2 separate regions of the Homo sapiens genome follow, and region 1 is linked to region 2. The links come from fine-mapping of genetic effects on gene expression. A gene starts in region 2. The other region holds a variant in brackets. All regions are shown on one strand. Distances are from middle to middle.

What was found. PIP is the estimated chance that this variant, and not a neighbour inherited with it, causes the effect. A credible set is the group of variants that fine-mapping cannot tell apart.
Region 1: its variant is the best candidate, but not a certain one, in a credible set for the expression of USP4 in sigmoid colon (GTEx, PIP 0.56).

Annotation. Positions count from the first base shown.
Region 1 is chr3:49,365,831-49,370,345 of GRCh38, forward strand. It overlaps RHOA (ras homolog family member A), which reads right to left. Exons shown (of 5, transcript NM_001664.4): 3 at 2,598-2,718. Among named protein-coding and RNA genes, the nearest start is that of GPX1, 9.7 kb to the left of the region's middle. The variant A/T (reference allele first, on the strand shown) is at 2,085.
Region 2 is chr3:49,337,697-49,341,696 of GRCh38, forward strand. It overlaps USP4 (ubiquitin specific peptidase 4), which reads right to left and starts at 2,357. Exons shown (of 22, transcript NM_003363.4): 1 at 2,228-2,357. The coding sequence starts at 2,328. RefSeq lists a silencer at 2,298-2,487 and enhancers at 2,528-3,027, 2,658-2,827, 2,918-2,977.

The sequences.
Region 1 (4,515 bases), 28 kb after region 2:
TCCGCCTACCTCAGCCTCCCGAAGTGCTGGGATTACAGGCGTGAGCCACCATGCCCGGCCTAAAAAATATAAAAATTAACCAAGCGCAGCAGTGTGTGCCTGTAGTACCAACTACTGGGTGGGGACTGAGATGGGAGGATTGTTTGAGCCCAGGAGGTCGAGGCAGCAGTAAACTGAATCTGCAACTGCACTCAAGACTGGGCAAGAAAGCGAGACCCTGTCTCAAAAAGAAAAAAGTGAGACTGAAGAGACAAAATGTTTTGCTCTGGAGGCAGTTTTTTCCCTCAAGAATTATACACTAGATAACGAGGGCAAAGGCACACAGTCCTTCTCATTCCAATAGGATCTAGGTGAAGTTATTTATGTGTGTATCTGATAGGAGAGTGTCAACTAGCTCAAATTTTCTCTGTGGCCTAAAGCTCTGCCCAGCCTCCAGGGCCTTCCAGCAGCTTCACAAAAGGAAGTCATATTAGTTTGAAAACCAAAACTAGGCTGGGTGTGGTGGCTCACACCTGTAATCCCAGCACTTTGGGAGGCCAAGGTGAGTGGATCACCAGAGGTCAGAAGTTTGAGAGAAGCCTGGCCAACACGGAGAAACCCGGTCTCTACTAAAAATACAAAAATCACCCAGGCGTGGGGGCGTATGCCTGTAGTCCAAGCTACTTGGGAGGCTGAGACAGGAGATTTGCTTGAACCTGGAAGGCGGAGGTTGCAGTGAGCCAAGATTGTGCCACTCAACTCCAGCCTGGGCAACAGAGCGAGACCCCGCCTCTAAATCAATCAATCAATCATAACTGCTGAAAATGATCTAAGTGAACCAACGGCATGGAATACGTGCTCTTTCTCTGTCCTGGGACATACTGCACAGAGGACTCAATCTTAGCTCAGCTCCTTGGGCCAGCATGACCTTAAACAAGTGGCTCAATATCTTGGAGCAACCCCAGTTATCATCATTAAGGTAGGGACAACCATAACAACACAATCACTCTAACACTAACTATCCAGGCAACCCGAGGCCACAAGCAGACCCTCAAAGGCTGTTTGTGGTAATGACGACAACATCCTTGACCCACCTGCTGCCCTGTCATGACAGGGAGGGCTGCAGCACAAGTTTATTAATAGATACCTCATCATCTTCAGCACAAACCTAAAGCAAGTTTTTTCAAGCCTGGTTTCACAGAATGTCAGGTTAGCATTCTTCAGTCTTTTTCTAAAGAATACTGACTTCTGGGCCAGGCGCAGTGGCTCACGCCTGTAATCCCAGCACTTTGGGAGGCCGAGGCAGGCGGATCACGAGGTCAGGAGATCAAGATCATCCTGGCTAACGTGGTGAAATCCCATCTCTACTAAAAAATACAAAAAATTAGCCGGGCGTGGTGGTGGCCACCTGTAGTCCCAGCTACTTGGGTGGCTGAGGCAGGAGAATGGCATCAACCCAGGAGGCAGAGCTTGCAGTGAGCTGAGATCAAGCTGCTGCAATCCAGCCTGGGAGACAGAGCAAGACTCCCTCTCAAAAAAAAAAAAAAAAAAAAAAAAGAATACTGACTTACTGACTTCTGAATTATGTGGCTGTGTTTAGGCTAATGAAATGATCACATTCAAGCTTCTATCAGCTAAGACACTTCAGAAAAAGGCTAAGACAGGGCAACCAAAAAAAAGAAAGTCTTTCCCCAAAAGAGATGGCTTTACATTTGGAACTCATCTAGTTTGCTCATCTTTTTTTTTGGGAGATGGAGTCTGCAGTACAGTGGCATGATCTTGGCTCACTGCAACTTCTGCTTCCCAGGCTCAAGTGATTCTCCTGCCTCAGCCCCTGGAATAGCTGGGATTACAAGTGCACGCCACCACACCCAGCTAATTTTTGTATTTTAGTAGAGACAAGGGGTTCACCATGTTGCCTAGGCTGGTCTCAAACTCCTGACCTCAGGTGATCTGCCAGCCTCGGCCTCCCAAAGTGCTAGGATTACAGGTGTCAGCCGCCGCACCAGCCTTAGTTTACTCATCTTTGTATCTGGAATTCATCTAGTTTACAAGGCAGTTAGATTTTTAAATAACATTTAATATTATTTAGTAATAATAATAAT[A/T]ATTATTATTTTTGAGATAGAGTCTTGCTCTGTTGCTCAGTCTGGAATGCAGTGCCATAATCTCGGCTCACTGCAATCTCCACCTACCAGGTTCAAACGATTCTCCTGCCTCAGCCTCCCAAGTACCTGGGACTACAGGCGTGCACCACCATGCCTGGCTAATTTTTTTGTACTTTTAGTAAAGACGGGGTTTCACCATGTTGGCCAGGCTGGTCTTGAACTCCTGACCCTCAGGTGATCCACCCGTCTGGACCTCCCAAAGCGCAGGGATTATAGGTGTCAGGCACCGTGCCCTGCCTAGGTGGATACATTTTAAATACAGTACCCATGGGAGACCTAGGCTGAAAGGGACCCAAGGCCCACGCTCTACAATCCCAAACTCCAGGACTCCGGCCACTGACGATGATTGCTTCTCTGAAGTTCATGTCTGCTTTTCAGCCACTTGATGCCCAGAAACCAGATGCCAACTAGCTACACAGGCAGTGACAAATATCAGGGTGCAGGGCCACTCACCTAAACTATCAGGGCTGTCGATGGAAAAACACATCAGTATAACATCGGTATCTGGGTAGGAGAGGGGCCTCAGGCGATCATAATCTTCCTGCCCAGCTGTGTCCCACAAAGCCAACTCTACCTGTAATGGGAAAAACAACCACAAGAGTGCAAGGTTAATCCCCCCACCCACTTTTAGAAAAAGTGACACTTACCATAGTACATTGAAATGGCAGACCATTGAAATGGCAGACGGTCTAAAACAGTAAAACACAGGAGTATTTACATTTTTTCTTTTTTCTTTTTTTTTTTTTTTTTTGAGATGTAGTCTTGCTCTGTCGCCCAGGCTAGAGTGCAGTGGCGCGATCTCTGCTCCCTGCAAGCTCCGTCTCCCGGGTTCACACCATTCTCCTGCCTTGGCCTCCCAAGTAGCTGGGACTACAGGTGCCCGCCATCACACCCGGCTAATTTTTTGTATTTTTAGTAGAGACGGGGTTTCACTGTGTTAGCCAGGATGGTCTGGATCTCCTGACCTCATGATCCGTCCGCCTCGGCCTCCCAAAGTGTTGGGATTGCAGGCGTGACCCACCGCGCCTGGCCTTTTTTTTTTTTTTTTTTTTTTTTTTTTTTTTTGTTGAGACGGAGTCTTACTCTGTTGCTCAGACTGGAGTTCAGTGGCAAGATCTTGGCTCACTGCAAGCTCTGCCCCCGGGTTCATGCCATTCTCCTGCCTCAGCCTCCTGAGCAGCTGGGACTACAGGCGCCCGCCACCACGCTTGGCTAATTTTTCGTACTTTTAGTAGAGACGGGGTTTCACCATGTTAGCCAGGATGGTCTTGATCTCCTGACCTCGTGATCCGCCTGCCTCGGCCTCCCAAAGTGCTGGGATTACAGGCATGAGCCACCACACCCGGCCGAGTATTCACTTTTATGAGCATCAAGCTCAAATGAGAGTATATTTAAATTATTTTAGGTTGAAATTTCTCAAAATTGAAAATCTGAGAACCCACCTCTACAAAAACACCTTAAAAATTAGCTGAGTGTGGCCAGGCGCGGTGGCTCATGCCTGTAATCCTAGCACTTTGGGAGGCTGAGGCGGGCTGACTGCCTGAGCTCAGGAGTTCGAGACCAGCCTGGGCAACATGGTGAAACCCCGTCCCTACTAAAATACGAAAGAAATTAGCCAGGCACGGCAGCGTGCGCCTGTAGTCCCAGCTACTGGAGAGGCTAAGGCAGGTGAATTGCTTGAACTCGAGAGGCAAAGGTTGCAGTGAGCCAAGATCGTGCCACTGCACTCCAGCACTCCAGCATGGGCGACAAAGCGAGCCTCCATCTCTAAAAAAAAAAAAAATAAATAAAATAAAACTTAGCTGAGTGTGGGCTGGGTGCGGTGGCTCACGCCTGTAATCCCAGCACTTTGGGAGGCCAAGGCGGGCGGATCACCTGAAGTCGGAAGTTCGAGACTAGCCTGACAAATGTGGAGAAACCCCATCTCTACTGAAAATACAAAATTAGCTGGGCGTGGTGAAGCATGCCTGTAATCCCAGCTACTCAGGAGGCTGAGGCAGGAGAATCGCTTGAACCCAGGAGGCGGAGGTTGCAATGAGTGGAGGTTGCAATGAGCTGAGATTGCACCACTGCACTCCAGCCTGGCCAACAAGAGCGAAACTCCATTTAAAAAAAAAAAAAAATTAGCTGACTGTGGTGGTGCACGCCTGTAGTCCCAGCTACTTGGGAGACTGAGGTGGGAGGACTGCTTGAGCCCGGGAGGCGGAGGTTGCAGTAAGCAGAGATTGTGCCACTGCACTGCAGCCTAGGCAGTGAGACCTTGACTCAATTAGGAAAAAAACAAAAAAACAAAACAGATACTAGAACTGAACCAAGTGGCATAATTCAAAATGTCAAGTCAAAAATAACTCTGTAGCTTATAAAAGTGTTT
Region 2 (4,000 bases):
AAAGTGCTGGGATTACAGGCATGAGCCACTGCACCAGACCTGTTTATATTTTTAAAGTATCACTGTGCTGGCCGGGAGCGGTGGCTCACGCCTGTAATCCCAGCACTTTGGGAGGCTGAGTCAGGTGGATCACGAGGTCAGGAGATCGAGACCATCCTGGCCAACATGGTGAAACCCTGTCTCTACTAAAAATACAAACATTAGCGGGGCATGGTGGTGCATGCCTATAATCCCAGCTACTCGGGAGGCTGAAGCAGGAGAATCGCTTGAACCCGGGAGGCAGAGATTGCAGTGAGCCGAGATCGCGCCACTGCACTCCAGCCTGGTGATGCAGCGAGACTTCGTCTCAAAAAAAAAAAAAAAAAAAAAAAAAAAAAGTATCTCTATGCTGTTTTACAATTAAAACAATCTCTGTGGAGCAACAAAGCATCAACAATTATATTGGTGCATCCTTAAAATTTTATAACCAACAAATGTGAGAGGAGGTCAGGCAGCTTCCCAGAGGTCACAAGGATCCATAAACACATCCATCTCTAAAATGCTATTTTTCTTCCAAATCCCTTGAGCAATACCTTCCATACAATTTTACTGTATGATTTTAGTCTATCTTAAACTTCCTCTACTTCTGCTGAGTATTCTTTATGAACCCTATAGAGGTTAACTTAAAAAGTACCTCTGCTAGGCCGGGCGCAGTAGCTTCCGCCTGTAATCCCAGCACTTTGGGAGGCCACAGCGGGCGATCACCTGAGATCTGGAATTCGAGACCAGCCTGACCAAAATGGAGAAACCCCGTCTCTACTAAAAATACAAAAAAAATTAGCCGGCCGTGGTGGCGCATGCCTGTAATCCTAGCTACTGGGGAGGCTGAGGCAGGAGAATCGCTTGAACATGGGAGGGGGAGGTTGCCGTGACCCGAGATCGCGCCATTGCCCTCCAGCATGGGCAACAAGAGCGAAATTCCTTCTCAAAAAAAAAAAAAAAAAGAAAAGAAAAGAAAAGAAAACACAAAAAAAGTACCTCTGTTTACCCTGCCTTTCACAAACTGGTTAGCTCAAGGTGAATACATAAGCTGTTATCTGTACTCCTCCTAACCCCAATTTTTCTATTCTCCTGCTCAATTCCTCGGCAGATCATCACCACAATGATTTCTTAAAGATAGGTAACACTCGGGCCGAGCACGGTGGCTCCCACCTGTAATCCCAGCACTTTGGGAGGCCGAGGCGGGTGGATCATAAGGTCAAGAGTTTGAGACCAGCCTACCCAACATGGTGAAACCCGGTCTCTACTAAAAATACAAAAAATTAGCTGGGTGTGGTGGCGTGAGCCTGTAATCCCAGCTACTCGGGAGGCTGAGGCAGGAGAATCGCTTGAACCCGGGAGGCGGAGGTTGCCGTGAGCCAAGATCACGCCACTGCACTCCAGCTTGGGCAACAAGAGTGAAACTCCATCTCAAAACAAAACAAAACAAACAAGATGGGTAACAATCATACTCGATGCAAAGTCTAGCCTTAGTTTTTCTACTCCTACACAATTACACCACCCAGGAATCTCTCCAGTAGTACAAAGTATTGTCCCCTCTACTAAACAATCTATTAAGATGCCTAATAACTCAGCCTGGGTCTTCTAAATTCTGGACCCTTCATCTTCTATCTAGCTCCAGGACCTAGGCTATCCTCCTCTCCCACTCCAAGACACTGCTGCCGCAAATATTTTTGACACTTGCTACCAAAATAATCGGGGTTCTCAGACATTTGTTCAGCTTCTGACCTTGACATCTGTTGGCAGTTTACAAGTTACAAAGTATCTACTTCTGATTTTCCCCTCAACCCACTGAGGTCGGTGAGCCAAATATTGCTATCCTGGTTTTAACAGTGAGGAATCCAGGTCTGTGACACCTTCGCCCAAGGTCACACGGCGAGTCCTCATGGTAAAGGGCTCTCCCCACCCTTAGGGTCCCCACCAACCTTCCCCTTCTCCACATCCCTCCTCCTGGCCCCCGCCGGGCCCGCCCCCTAGGGCTCCAAATGAACTGAGACGACACTCAGGCCCCGCCTGCGCTTTCCCAGAGCTGATCCTGGAGTTATTCTCCTGAGGGGCAGGTGTCAGGCTACTCTTCCAGGGTCACTACATACCATCCCCGCCCAGCCCCTACTCTAGCCGAGAAAAAGGAGGCCCCTTTTTCTCGGCCCCTGGTTCTGCATAGAGGAAGAGCGAGCCGGGAGCTCACCACTGCGCCCCGCGTTGGAGTGTGGTCCTCATTAAGGGTCCAAGCTCGGACTTCTGAGTCTCCGCATCCGGTCGCTCACGGCAGCCTCCACCTTCCGCCATCTCCTCCGCGGCCCCGGCCCAGCCGGCCCGGACATCCGCCCCGCGCGCGGCGTGCTATAGACCGCGCCCACGCACGCACGCTCGCGTGCCCGCCCCTGCCCCACCTCGAGCCGCGGCCTTCGGCTCCTGCAGCCGCTGTCTTTTCTCCCCTCCGCTCTCGCGCCACCTAGCTCACCGGCGAACAGTGGAGCGGAAAGGCACACGCGAGAGGGGTGGGCGGGGAGCAGCAGCTGCTACTTCCTCCCGCCCTGCCGCCCGCTACGCGGCCTTCGGGCGCCCCTTCCTCTGCTCAGGATGGCGCTACACTTCGAAGCTCTGTTCAGCCCGCCGATCTCAGGGAGTTAGGCAGCAAGCCCACGACCCATCGGGCACCCCAGCCTGGCCTTCGAGGTTATCGTGGTCCTAAATAAATGCAGGCCAGGTGCGAGAAGCCCGGTAGTTAGGTCTGCTCATTCTCACCCCTGCAATTCCGCTTTCAGCTGGAGGCCTTAGGCGAGTCAGCTGCCCAAACGTGGGATCGGGGCTCCTGCTCCAGCGGCCCTACAGGGATTTCGGGAAGTACCATGTGCACCAGCGCCTTGGGACCAAGACTCAATGGTGTGTTGTAGTCATTAACAGTCGCCTTAAACAGTCGACGCCAGAGCCACCTGGCCCACCGCAGAATTCCGTCAGCTCTTCATACTGAGCTACTTGCCAAGCAGCCACAGAGGGGCGATAGCAACAGGGGAAGGAGAGGTACTCCACATTAGTTACCCAGGCGTGTACTTAGTTCCTGGAACAAGATACAACGTCCTGAACACTATGTTTTCCAGTCGCCCCGCTCACACACACAACCCTCCTCTTGGAGGGAGAAGTAAACCCAGAGGAAAGAGGAAGTCAGGCAGTTGGTCTAGATGCGTCTCCATACACTTGTCTAACAGTCCTTGTCCTCAGAGAAAAATAAGACCTAGTTCCTGCCCTCATAGAATCTAGTAGAAAAGAAGAGATGTTACAGAAATAACCTCAATGCCTAGCAGTATGTGGTAAGTGCCATTAAAGTGTGTGAACCAGGCCGGGCGCGGTGGTTCAAGCCTGTCGTCCCAGCACTTTGGGAGGCTGAGGCGGAAGGATAGGTTCAGCCCAGGAGTTAGAGACCAACCTCGGCAACATAGCGAAATCCCGTCTCTACAAAAAAATACAAAAAATAGCCGGGCAGTGGCTCGCGTCTGTGGTCCCAGGTACTTGGGAGGCTGAGGTAGGAAGATCCCTTGAGCCCAGGAGGTCGAGGTTGCAGTGAGTCGAGATGGCGCCACTGCACTTGAGACTGGACGGCAAAGTGAGACCCTGTCTCAAAAAAAAAAAAATAAATACAAATAAAGGGTGTGAACCGGCCGGGCGCGGTGGCTCACACCTGTAATCCCAGCACTTTGGGAGGCCGAGGCAGGAGGATCACCTGAGGTCGGGCATTCGAGACCAGCCTGACCAACGTGGAGACCGAAATGTCTTAAAAAAAAAAAAAAAAAAAGACCGGGCGTCCGGCGCGGTGGTTCATGTTTGTAATCCTAGGACTTTGGGAGGCCGAGGCGGGCAGATCACGAGGTTAGGAGTTCGAGACCAGCGTGGCTAATATGGTGAAACCCCTTCTCTACTAAAAATACAAAAAAAAAAAAAAAAATTAGCCGTTAGTGGTGGC